Regions from separate parts of the Homo sapiens genome. Here region 2 is linked to region 1. Evidence: fine-mapped expression QTL. Tissue or cell type: whole blood. Region 1 holds a variant in brackets; the other region holds the start of a gene. All regions are shown on one strand. Distances are from middle to middle.

Evidence for each region. PIP is the estimated chance that this variant, and not a neighbour inherited with it, causes the effect.
Region 2: CLK4 starts here. The variant in region 1 is fine-mapped to the expression of CLK4 in whole blood (TOPMed, PIP 0.99).

Annotation. Positions count from the first base shown.
Region 1 is chr5:178,686,558-178,692,310 of GRCh38, reverse strand. It overlaps a transcript of MSANTD5 not described here. Among named protein-coding and RNA genes, the nearest start is that of MSANTD5, 8.3 kb to the left of the region's middle. The variant A/G (reference allele first, on the strand shown) is at 2,969.
Region 2 is chr5:178,624,492-178,630,244 of GRCh38, reverse strand. It overlaps CLK4 (CDC like kinase 4), which reads left to right and starts at 3,195. Exons shown (of 13, transcript NM_020666.3): 1 at 3,195-3,299. RefSeq lists enhancers at 1-159, 3,227-3,836, 3,569-4,249.

The DNA of each region.
Region 1 (5,753 bases):
TCCCTGGGTTTCAAGCAACTCTCCTGCCTCAGCCTCCCCAATAGCTGGGATTACAGGCGCCTGCCACCATGCCTAGCTAATTTTTGTATTTTTAGTAGAGAGAGGGTTTCACCATATTGGCCAGGCTTGTCTCGAACTCTTGAGCTCAGGTGGTCCACCCACCTCGGCCTCCCAAAGTGCTGGGATTACAGGCATGAGCCACAGCGCCTGGCCTAATTTTTTTTTTTTTTTTTTTTTTAGAAACTGCCAAACTCTTTACCAGATGGCCGTGTCATTCTACATCCCCACCAGCAATGTATGAGTGAACCAGTTTCTCCATATCCTCACCAGCATTTTGTTTTGTCACTATTCATTAAAAGGCGAATAGAATGGCCTTCAGAGTGTCCATCGCAGAGGGCCTTAGCAGAGCTTAGAATGATGGGACTGGCCTCTGCCCAGGGCCCCTCTGCACAGCATGACAAAGCGGTGATATCTACTTATGGCTTCCATTTTCAGTTCCCTGGCGGCTGATGATACGGAGCATGTTGTATGCCTATTTGCCATCTGCATATCCTCTGCAGTGACATGGCTCTTCATGGTTTTGGCCATTTTCTAATTGGATTTTTGTTTTTACTGTTATTATTTGAGAGTTTTTTAAAATATATTCTAGATATTCGTTTTATGGGATATGGGTGTTGCAGATACTTTCTCCCTGTTTGTAGCTTGTCTTTTCATGCCCTTCTTATGGGCTTTCACAGAGAAAAGACTTTGTGAGGTACAATTTACCAACATTTTAATGGGTAGTGCTTTGGGTGTCAAATCTAAGAACCCTTTGGTTAGTCCTAGATCCTGAAGACTTTTTCCTATATTTTTCTTTTTCTTTTTCTTTTCTTTCTTTTTTTTTTTTTTTTTTGAGATGGAGTCTTGCTCTGTCTCCCAGGCTGGAGTGGTGCAGTGGCATGATCTTGGCTCACTGCAAGCTCCGCCTCCTGGGTTCACGCCATTCTCCTGCCTCAGCCTCCCGAGTAGCTGGGACTACAGGCGCCCGCCACCACGCCTGGCTAATTTTTTGTATTTTTAGTAGAGACGGGGTTTCGCCGTGTTAGCCTGGATGGTCTTGACCTCCTGACCTCGTGATCCACCTGCCTCGGCCTCCCAAAGTGCTGGGATTACAGGCTTGAGCCACTGTGCCCGGCTGACTTTTTCCTATATTTTTCTTAAAGTTTTATAGTTTTACATTTTGCATTTAAGTCCCTGGTACATTTGAGTTAAATTGTGATTAAGGTTTGTGAAGTTTAGGTTAAGGTTCATTTTGTGTGTATGTGCCTGTGAATGTCCAGTTGCTCTTCTCTGAAGAGGCTATCTTTTCTGCGTTGAATTTCTTTTGCATTTTTGTGACAAATTAGGTGGGCATATTTGTGTGGTTCTTGTCATGGGTTCTCTACCTTGTTCCATTGGTCTGCACTCTGCTAATATCACACACCCTTGTTTACTATAGCTGTATAAGTTATTAAATCATATAAATTAATTCTTCCTACTTTGTTCTTTGATTGATTTTTCAAACATTGAACCAGCCTCATATCTCTGGAGTACATCAATTGTCCATCATATAATTTTTTCATCTATTATTGATGTATTAGTAATGTTTTATTAATGATTTCTGCATCAGTATTCAAGAAAGATGCTGTTTTACAGTTTTGTTGTACTGTCTTTTTCTGGTTTTGGTATCAGGATAATACTAGCTTCATAAAGTCCATTTGCAAGTGAAATAAGCTAGCCACAGGAAGATAAATACTGCATGCTCTCACTTATATGTGGAATCTAAAATAGTCAGACTCATAGAAGAGAGTAGAATGGTGGTTTCCAGGGCTGGAGGGAGGGAGAAGTGGGGGGATGGGGGGATGCTGGTCATGAGTGTAAATTTCCGGTTACTCAAGATGAGTAAGTTCTGGAGATGGAATGTACAGCATGGTGACTATAGTTAACACTATTGTATTTTATACCTGAAATTTGTTTAGAGGGTAGATCTTAAGTGTTCTCATCTTACACACACACACAAAGGTTAACTATGTGAGGCGATAAATATGTTAACTGACTTGACTATGGTGCTCATTGCACAATATATACATATATAAAAAATCAAGTTTTAAAATCGATACCTTTTTTTGAGACGCAGTCTCGCTCTGTCACCCAGGCTGGAGTGCAGTGGCGCGATCTCGGCTCACTGCAAGCTCTGCCTCCTGGGTTCACACTGTGACATGGGGCTGGAGAGTTGATCTAAACTGAGGGAGGACAGTGAAGGTGTCCCTGGCCAGCTGAAGGCAAACTGCTTCAGGTGGGCCTTCTGGACAGGGATGGAGAAAAAGGTGTGTGTCAGATCAATAGTTACATACCATGTACCAGGATATGTGTTAATTTGCTCAAGCAATGAAACAGCATCTGGTACAGCAACTGCAATTAGAGTTATCACTTGGTTAAGCTTCTGGGAATCCACCATCATTCTCCAGGATTCATCTGTCTTCTGCACAGGCCAGGAGAGTTGGACAAGGATGTGGGGTAGGAATCACCACCCCTCCATACTTCAAGTCTTTGATGATGGCACTCATCTATATCATTCCTCCAGGAAGGCAGTATTGGTGTGTTTTTTGTTTTAGTATTTTTCTAGGTAGAGATGGCTGTAACGCCTTCCATTTGTCCTTTCCCATCACAATTGCCCTCACTTTATAGCTCAGGGAACCCGTGTGGAAACTCTGCTAGCTGCTGAACACGTCTGTTCCAACTACACATCTGGACCCGGGAAATGACCAGAGAATGGGTTCCGGGACCCGCTGGGCCCACGGTGAGTTGGACCTGAGTTAAAGCTCCTGGTACCAAGATATGGAAAAACCTCTTTGACTGTCTTATTTCACTGGAAAACAGTATGGAGTTTACTCAAAAAAATTAAAAATAGAACTACCACATAATTCAACAGTGCCACTTCTGGGTATGT[A/G]TCCAGGATCTGGAAGAGAGATCTGCATCTCACGTTCATTGCAGCACTATTCACAGTAGCAAAGATACGGAAACAATCTAAGTGTCCACTGACAGGTGAATGGATAAAAAGAAAACTTGACACACATACACACACAGCGGAATATTATTCAGCCACTTTAAAAAAGAAGTCCTGCCTATCAACAACATAAATGAACCTAGAGGGCACTATACTCAGTGAAGTGTGACAGAGACAGACAAATACTGTATGGTATCACTTATATATGGAATCTAAAAAGAAGAAACATTTCCAACTCATAGAAGCAGAGAGCAGAGCAACCTGGTGGTTGCCGGGAAGGGAGGTGGGGGAGGAAATGGAGAGATCTTGATCAAAGTGTACAAACTTTCAGTTATAAGATGAAGGAATTCTAAAGATCTAATGTACAGCACGGTGAGCATAGTTAATAATACTATATTTTATACTGAAGCTTGCTAAGAGAGTAGATCTGAAGTGTTCTCACCGAAAAAGGGAGGGGGTAAGTGTGGGAAGTATTGGGTAAGTGCTGTGGTTTGGATATTTGCCTCCAAATCTCATAATGTGAAATGCAATCCCCAGTGTTGAAGGTAAGGGCTAGTAGGTGTTTGGGTCATGGGCGTGGATCCCTCATTAATGGCTTGGTGCTGTCCTTGAGGTCATGAGTGAGTTCTTACTCTATTAGTTACCAAGAGATCTGATTGTTTAAAAGGGCCTGGCATCTCTCTCTTGCCTCCTCTCTTGCCATGTGACATGCCTGCTCCCTTTTTGCCTTCCACCAACAGTAAAGCCTTCCTGAGGCCTCCCCGGACTCCCAGCAGTTACTGGTGCCGTGTTAGTGCAGGCTGCAGAACTGTGGGCCAAATAACCTGTTTTCTGTATAAATTACCCATCCTCAGGTATTCCTTTACAGCCATGCGAAACAGACTAATGCAGCATGCTAATTAACTTTATCATGGTAATAACTTTATTTTATTATTTATTTACTTAGAGTCTCATTTTGTCACCCACGCTGGAGTGCAGTGGCACCATCTCAGCTAACTGCAACTTCTGCCTCCCAGGTTCAAGCAATTCTCCCATCTCAGCTTCCTGAGTAGTAGCTGGGATTAAAGGCACATGCCACCACACCTGGCTAATTTTTTGTATTTTTTTGGAGAGATGGGGTTTCGCTGTGTTGCCCAGGCTGATCTCAAACTCCTGGCCTCAAGTAATCCTCCCGCTGTGGCCTCCCAAAGTGCCGGGATTACAGGTGTGAGCCACCAGGGCTGGCCAGGGTAATCATTTTAAAGTGTTAACATATGTGAAATCATCAGTTGTACACCTTAAATAGATACAATTTTCTGTCAATTATGCCTCAATAAATTGAAGAAAATAATTTTTTTCTGGATATATTTTCTGAAAACTAAAGTGATTTAAGTTACATAAACAGAAAATAGTATCAAACTGAAAATAGACCCAAATTTTAACAGTTTTTATTTTACTAGAAATAATACTCTTTAGTTTTTCATTTTGTTTTTATATGATCATATATTTCTTTCTTTTCTTTTTTTTTGAGACAAAGTCTCGCTCTGTCACCCAGGCTGGAGTGCAGTGGCGCGATCTCAGCTCACTGCAAGCTCCTCCCACGTTCACGCCATTCTCCTGCCTCAGTCTCCCGAGTAGCTGGGACTACAGGCGCCTGCCACCATGCCCGGCTAATTTTTTGTATTTTTAGTAGAGACGGGGCTTCACCATGTTAGCCAGGATGGTCTCTATCTCCTGACCTCATGATCTGCCCGCCTTGGCCTCCCAAAGTGCTGGGATTACAGGTGTGAGCCACCGTGCCCGTCCATAATCATATATTTCTATCAAAGTAGAGGGAAATCCGGCCAGGTGCGGTGGCTCATACCTGTAATCCAAGCACTTTGGAAGGGCGAGGCAGGAGGATTAACTTGAGCTCAGGAATTCAAGACCAGCCTGGGCAACATGGTGAAACCCCGTCTCTTCTAAAAAATAAAAAAATTTAGCCAGGCGTGGTGGCGGGCACCTGTAATCCCAGTTACTCTGGAGGCAGAGGCGGGAGAATCGCTTGAAACCGGGAGGCGGAGGTTGCAGTGAGCTGAGATCAGGCCACTGCACTCCAGCCTGGGTGACAGAGAGTGAGAGCTTGTCTCAAAAAAAAAAAAAAAAATGTTGAGGGAAATCAAATATACTCAAAACCTTCTCTTGTAGCAGAGTTCATGAGAGGAAAAAAAAGAAAAAGAAATTTTTTTTTGCACAGAGTCTTGCTCTATCACCCAGGCTGGAGTGCAGTGGGGCGATCTCGGCTCACTGCAAGCTCCTCCTCCTGGGTTCACGCCATGCTCCTGCCTCAGCCTCCCGAGTAGCTGGGACTACAGGCGCCCGCCACCACGCCCGGCTAATTTTTTTGTATTTTTAGTAGAGACGGGGTTTCACCGTGTTCGCCAGGATGGTCTCGATCTCCTGACCTCGTGATCTGCCTGCCTCGGCCTCCCAAAGTGCTGGGATTACAGGCATGAGCCACTGCGCCTGGCCCAGAAAATGAAAAATTTTAAAAATTATCCTAGAAATTGTCAAATAGCTGATTTCAGACCAATTATCTTGCTAAAGAAACGTAGAAAAGTCAGTCAAAACAGAAAACATATATTTTTGAAGGAATTAAGGAGCTCTTAAGGCAGCCAAGACGTTGATGGGGCTTCTTTTTTTTTTTTTTTTGAGATGGAGTTTCGAGCCCAGACTGTAGTGCAGTGGCGTGATCTCAGCTCACTGCAAC
Region 2 (5,753 bases), 62 kb after region 1:
ACGGTAATAAGCTTTTGTTTAATTTACACAATAATTTAGACTTTTACTCTAAAACCTGGCTCTCATATATGAGTGTTTTTGATGTCTGAAGTTAAGCATGTCGTATACATATCCTAGAATATGTGATAAGAATATTCCTTTGGTTGCTCTTCAAAGCTAAAAATTTCTTTTTTTTTTTTTTTTGAGACAGAGTCTTACTGTTACCCAGGCTGGAGTGCAGCGGCACGATCTCAGCTCACTGCAGCCCCGCCTCCTGGGTTCAAGCGATTCTTCTGCCTCAGCCTCCTAAGTAGCTGGGGGTACAGGCACCCGCCACCATGCCCAGCTAATTTTTGTATTTTTAGTAGAGACGGGGTTTCACCATATTGGCCAGGCTGGTCTCGAACTCCTGACCTCATGATCCGCCTGCCTCGGTCTCCCAAAGTGCTGGGATTACAGGCGTGAGCCACCGTGCCCAGCCAAAAAAATTCTTAAACTAGTTCTTTTTGTTTTTGCTTTTGAGACAGGGTTTGGCTCTGTCACCCAGGCTGGAGTGCAGTTGCACGATCTTGGCTCACTGCAACCTCTGCCTCCTGGGCTCAAACCATCCTCCCACCTCAGCCTCCCGAGTAGCTGGGACCACAGCCATGCACCACCATGTCCAGCCAATTTTTTTTCTGTATTTTTTGTAGAGATGGGATTTCACCATGTTGGCCAGGCTAGTCTTGAAATCCCAGGCTCAAGTGATCCACCCACCTCTGCCTGCAACCTGAGATTACAGGCGTGAGCCACTGTGCCCAGCCTTTGACTAGCTGCTTGGACACATCAGTTAACTCAAAGGTTTTTTTGGACATACTGTTCTTGTGTAGAGATGAAACCACTGGATTAGGCAGTGTTTCTGGTATTGGTAGTAGATTCTCAGAAATTTAGATAAACCTTTTCATTAAGTCTTGCCAGGTAACTGACTTAATAGGAAGGGTTGAGGCTGCCACGAAAGGGTGGTAAGCTAACTGGTGCAGTGATGCTGGGATGAAATGTCTACCTTTAACTTACTCACTTTGACCTTAAACCAACTGAGCAAAATGGCCCAAAGCAGCTTATGTAAACAACCTACAAATATTTACTGGGTTCTAGGCCTGAGATACCAAAGACAATATAAATCAGGTCCTTGTCTCCAAACTCAGCACAAAGCCACAGAGAGTGACTAGGGGCACCATAGTGCTGCATCACATAGCATAGAGGTGCTAGTCATTCTCAGCTTCCTTCTGATCACTACACACTTTTAAACATTAGACCTTTTGGTGGCATACAAATTAAAACACTAAAGCGAGATGAATGTAATTACAAAGCAGACTCTACTATTGGGTAACAGTGTGTGTGACGTCTATAATATAAAGGCCTCTGTAGGTGGCATTTCAAGTGGCTGCTTTTTAACATAGTGTTGCTTTTTTGAGCAGAATTGTGGGCTGTCCTGACCACACTTTCTTATAACCCCAGGAGGCAGGATCTCTCCTACTCCATGAAACAGGAGAACATTCTTTGGTGCCAGCTTGAATTTACATTCTCATATGCTGCAATTTGAGCCCCACTCTACCTTGTATTATCGCCCAGACCAGTCAGCTCAACATTCTATCTAATAGATTCCCTTGAGACGGGATGTGTAATCAATTGTAGAACCAATACATTTCACTCTTTGGGCAAAATCTGTTAGCATACCAGGTGGCTCCAAATACTCCACTATTTGAGGACTTCACATCTAACTGGAGTAGTCAGGAGCCGGGAAATGGGTGGGAACTCATGTCAGAGACAGCATCTTAAAGAAATGGCCTTTCAAGGATGAGTAAGATTTAAATTTGTAGATGCAAAAATGGTGGCTATTCTAGATGAAAATAATATCATTTGTTTCATTCTGTAGCATAAAGAGTTTACCCTTCCAGTTTTCCAAGTTTCTTTTCAACTTCGCTTCTTGGAGTGCAATCTCCATGAAAATTCAACTTACTTTTTGAAATGCTGTACAATCTCCGAGATTTATCTAAATTTACCCTACTTACCCAAACCAGATGGCACAAGTTTCTATCATGTTAGATCACTAAAGGTATTTCCGTTCCCTCCTTTCACCTAACAGGATAACAGGTCTCCCACATGCTACTGGGCTAATACCCGCAAGAGTTCAACCCTACCCTCCCAAATTTGATTTCTAGCTTTCCCTTTTATCCAGCGAATCCCCGTCAGAATACAGAAGCCAACCCCCACCCCGCCCGCCGTCCCCCCCCACGATCTTCAGTCTCACCTAAACCCTTTCCCTCACTTACGCCCTTCCTTGCTTTGACACCCTATTCTTGGTTCTCCTCCTCTGCTGATCATTCCTTCTCAGGCCCCTTTCCCTCTGGCCCTTGAGTGTTCCCCACAGGGCTCCGACTTTGACCCTAATATTTCTCATGTTACATACTTACACGGGGGAACTGCCTGAGGGTCCTCAGAACTGCAGAATACCTTATTTGAGGTAAGCAAGCCCCATAACGGACTATCACTAGCTCAGAGACATTTTTCAGCCTTGAATAAAATCAGCCCGCAGGGACAAAAAAAAATGGGGAAAACTTCGTTAGGGAAACTTCCAGCGACCTTAACTGCTCAGGAGGTAGGGATCCTAACAGGAAAACCTTGTCAGGAGTCTCCATTGAAACCTCCGGGTTTTTGTTTTGTTCTGAATAGGAGCACGTGCCTTGAAAAGATTAGCACCCCTTGAGCTTGTTTTCTGAGACAGCCTCTTTGTCCGAATCCACCTTAGACTGGAAGCGCCAAGTGGGCAGGACAAGCACCCAGTCCAGGGAACAGCCCAGGGACCAGCCAAGGCCCGCCCTAGGCGGTTTTGGGGCCGTTGTCGGGTGCCGGCTGCGGGAGTTGAGGTCCCGGGGGAGGGGGCAGACACGCGGTACACACTGAGGGCGGGACACGGGCGTTCCTTCCCGGTTCCACCCGAGCCCGTAGAGAACGTAAACACCCTCCCGGCCTAGAGGCCCCGGGACCGGGTGGGCGGGGGGGGGGGGGTGGAAATGCTTGGGCCGCGCAGCCGCAGTGTGGAGGCTCGAGCCCCGCTCTTACGTCACGTGGAGCCCCGCCCTTAGGTGGAGCGGCGGGAGCGCGCAAGGTTCTGTCACGCAGGCGCGTTCGCGCGGCGTAGGTGGTGCTAGAGGCGACTCGGGGGATTCTAGGGCGACGGCGCTGCCGCCATTTTGTGGGGTGTTTGTCGCAGCGGCCGAGGAGGGAAGACGGCAGTTTGGCGACATTTCTCGGCCGAAGGGCCATTTGCTTTTGCGGAGGTAGGGTTGCAGATGGTGTGTGCTGGGACAGGCGGCTGTCGGTCTTTAGGTCTCCGAGCCAGGTGTCGGAGAAACGACCGCGTTAGGGGCCTGGGCTTCTGGAGCTGAGTTGGGAGTTCTGCGAGGCGCTGCTCGGCTGGTGCACGCCGGCAGCACCGAAAGTTGCTCGGGCGTCGCGGTTCTGCCGCTGACCCTTCTCTGAGGGCCCTGGCCGCTCGCGTCGCGGCTCCGGAGGCCGTGGGCTCGCGGTCCCCTGCTGCCTGGCGAGCGCGGCTGTTGGTTAACCCTGTCGGGACCTCTTCCAGCCGGCGGGCGCTAGGACCTGTCGGGAGACCCTTCGAGAGCCGTCTCTGGCATTCGTGTTGTCGGAGATCAAGTCTTCCCCTGGATTCCTGGCCTGGGCCGTTTGTAGCGTTTCGGGGGTTTTCCAGAGTCAAGCATTTGCCCCTGTCTTGAGTGCGCCAAAGGCACTGGCCGGGTGCCCAGGAGCCGGGAGGTGGGGACCGGGCGTCCGTGCAAATCCAGGTGGTTGAGGGCAGTAGCTGCTTGTGAGAGGTGGAAATTTGCGGAGGCTAGTCCTCTGTGCTATGCTGAACACAACATTGTTGCAGCGAACCTGCGTTTCTGGTGGTTTTGCATCTTATTATCCCTGGTTGCCTAAATAGTCCAGATAGGCTTATCCGATCCTTAGGAAACCGCCCCGCAAACTGAACTCGCCAGCCACTTTGTCTTGCCTCATAGCTGTCCTGTGCGATTGTGCTTTTTACACACCCCTACAGGCTTGTAACCCATTAAATGCAGTCCTCTTGGAGCCATCCAATCCTAAACTTATAACCTGTTTCGATGTTTTTAAGCCATGTACGTAGCGTAAAGTTGTCAAGAACTACAGGATCTTAAGGGCAGTGGCGATGGATCTACATATGAGATCCATTGTGTCATTATTTTTTGAAAGATACCTACTCTAGCATGTGGGATGCTTTATTAGAGGCAGTGTCATGATTCTAGATAGCTTTTCTTTTTTATGTATGCGAAGGAACCTTACCACGTAGAACGTGGGTCGGGTGATCTTTGTGCCTCCAGATAAAATATTTTTGAACATTGCAGGGTGAGTGGGGGAGGTCAGAGGCTGGGACTAACAGCTGAATTACATTTGAAGTAGTGAACTTGAGAAGAATTTTGGACTCTCACAACGGAGCTCGTTCTTATTTTAATGTTTGCATATTAACTGATAATTTGAGAGTTCTGTTTTGCTGGAGGTTAGCTGGTTGTAAGCAGACTTACAGTAGAAGAGGAAAAAACAAAACTGAAGAAGATACATAAGTCTTGAAAAAAACTTCATAGTAATGGAGGGTCATAATAATAACGCTCGGTCATCAGATGTGATTTTGCTTGCTATGATTTAAAAATGCTTAACCAAGCTGAGTTCCTGATGTGGTTAAAATACAACTTTGGTATTTGACGGAACGCTTCAGAAGAACTGCACTTGAAATACACATTTTCTTTTTTTTTTTTTTTTTTTTTTTGAGACAGGGTCTCACTGTCGCCCATACTGGTATGCAATGGCGTGATCATGGCTCACTGCAGCCTTGACTTCCTTGGGCTCCAGTGATTGTCCCAGTAGGTGGGACTACAGGCTCGAGTCACCATGTGCGGCTAATTTTTTGTATTTTTTGTAAAGGCAGGGTTTCGCCGTGTTGCCCAGGCCAGTCTCGAATTCCTGGGCTCAAGGGATGAGGCGCCACTGCGTCCAGCCATAAATTTTTCTTGATAGCTCTAATGAAGAAAGTTTGTGTTTTGGCCTTTTGCCTCAAGTAAATGTGTGCTGTTATTCATGTCACGTTCCCATATGGAAGTGACTCCATTTGTATCAAACCGGAATGCTCACTTCCATTGAGACGCTAACAAGAGTTTTAGAATTGCTGTTTGGCCTGATCAGTGCCTTCTCTTCCTCTGTAAAGTGAGCTGAGAGCCACCTTAGAAGGATGCTTGATGGGTATAGAATTAGAATCAGCAAGAGAGTGAATTAAAATATCTGACTATCTGGTGGCAATCAGACTCTGATGGCGTGACACATACTTTCTTGTGGAATACCTCCCAGAAGAATTGAAGCTGCCTCACTCCAAAACCTTTAATCCATTTAAAATCATTTAAATTTCTGCTTGCATTTGTTTGCTTATTAGTCATTTGGGCAAGCTGAATGAGGTTAACTGAGTGGGTTTTACTCCATTTTAGCTTTTTTCAGCTCCTTGCTGAATTGTGAAATTCTTCTCTTTTTACCATTTAAACTCACCCTGTTTAGGAGAATTTGGACCTGACTGTTAAAACTTAACTGTTTTGGAAAATAATTAAGATGGGGAGAGACAGATAGGGGTTATATTGTTTGAGCGCAGATGCTGAGCCTGGAAGGAACCCAGGTTATGCACTGGAGTTTGTAAATAAAGTCAGCTGTCACCG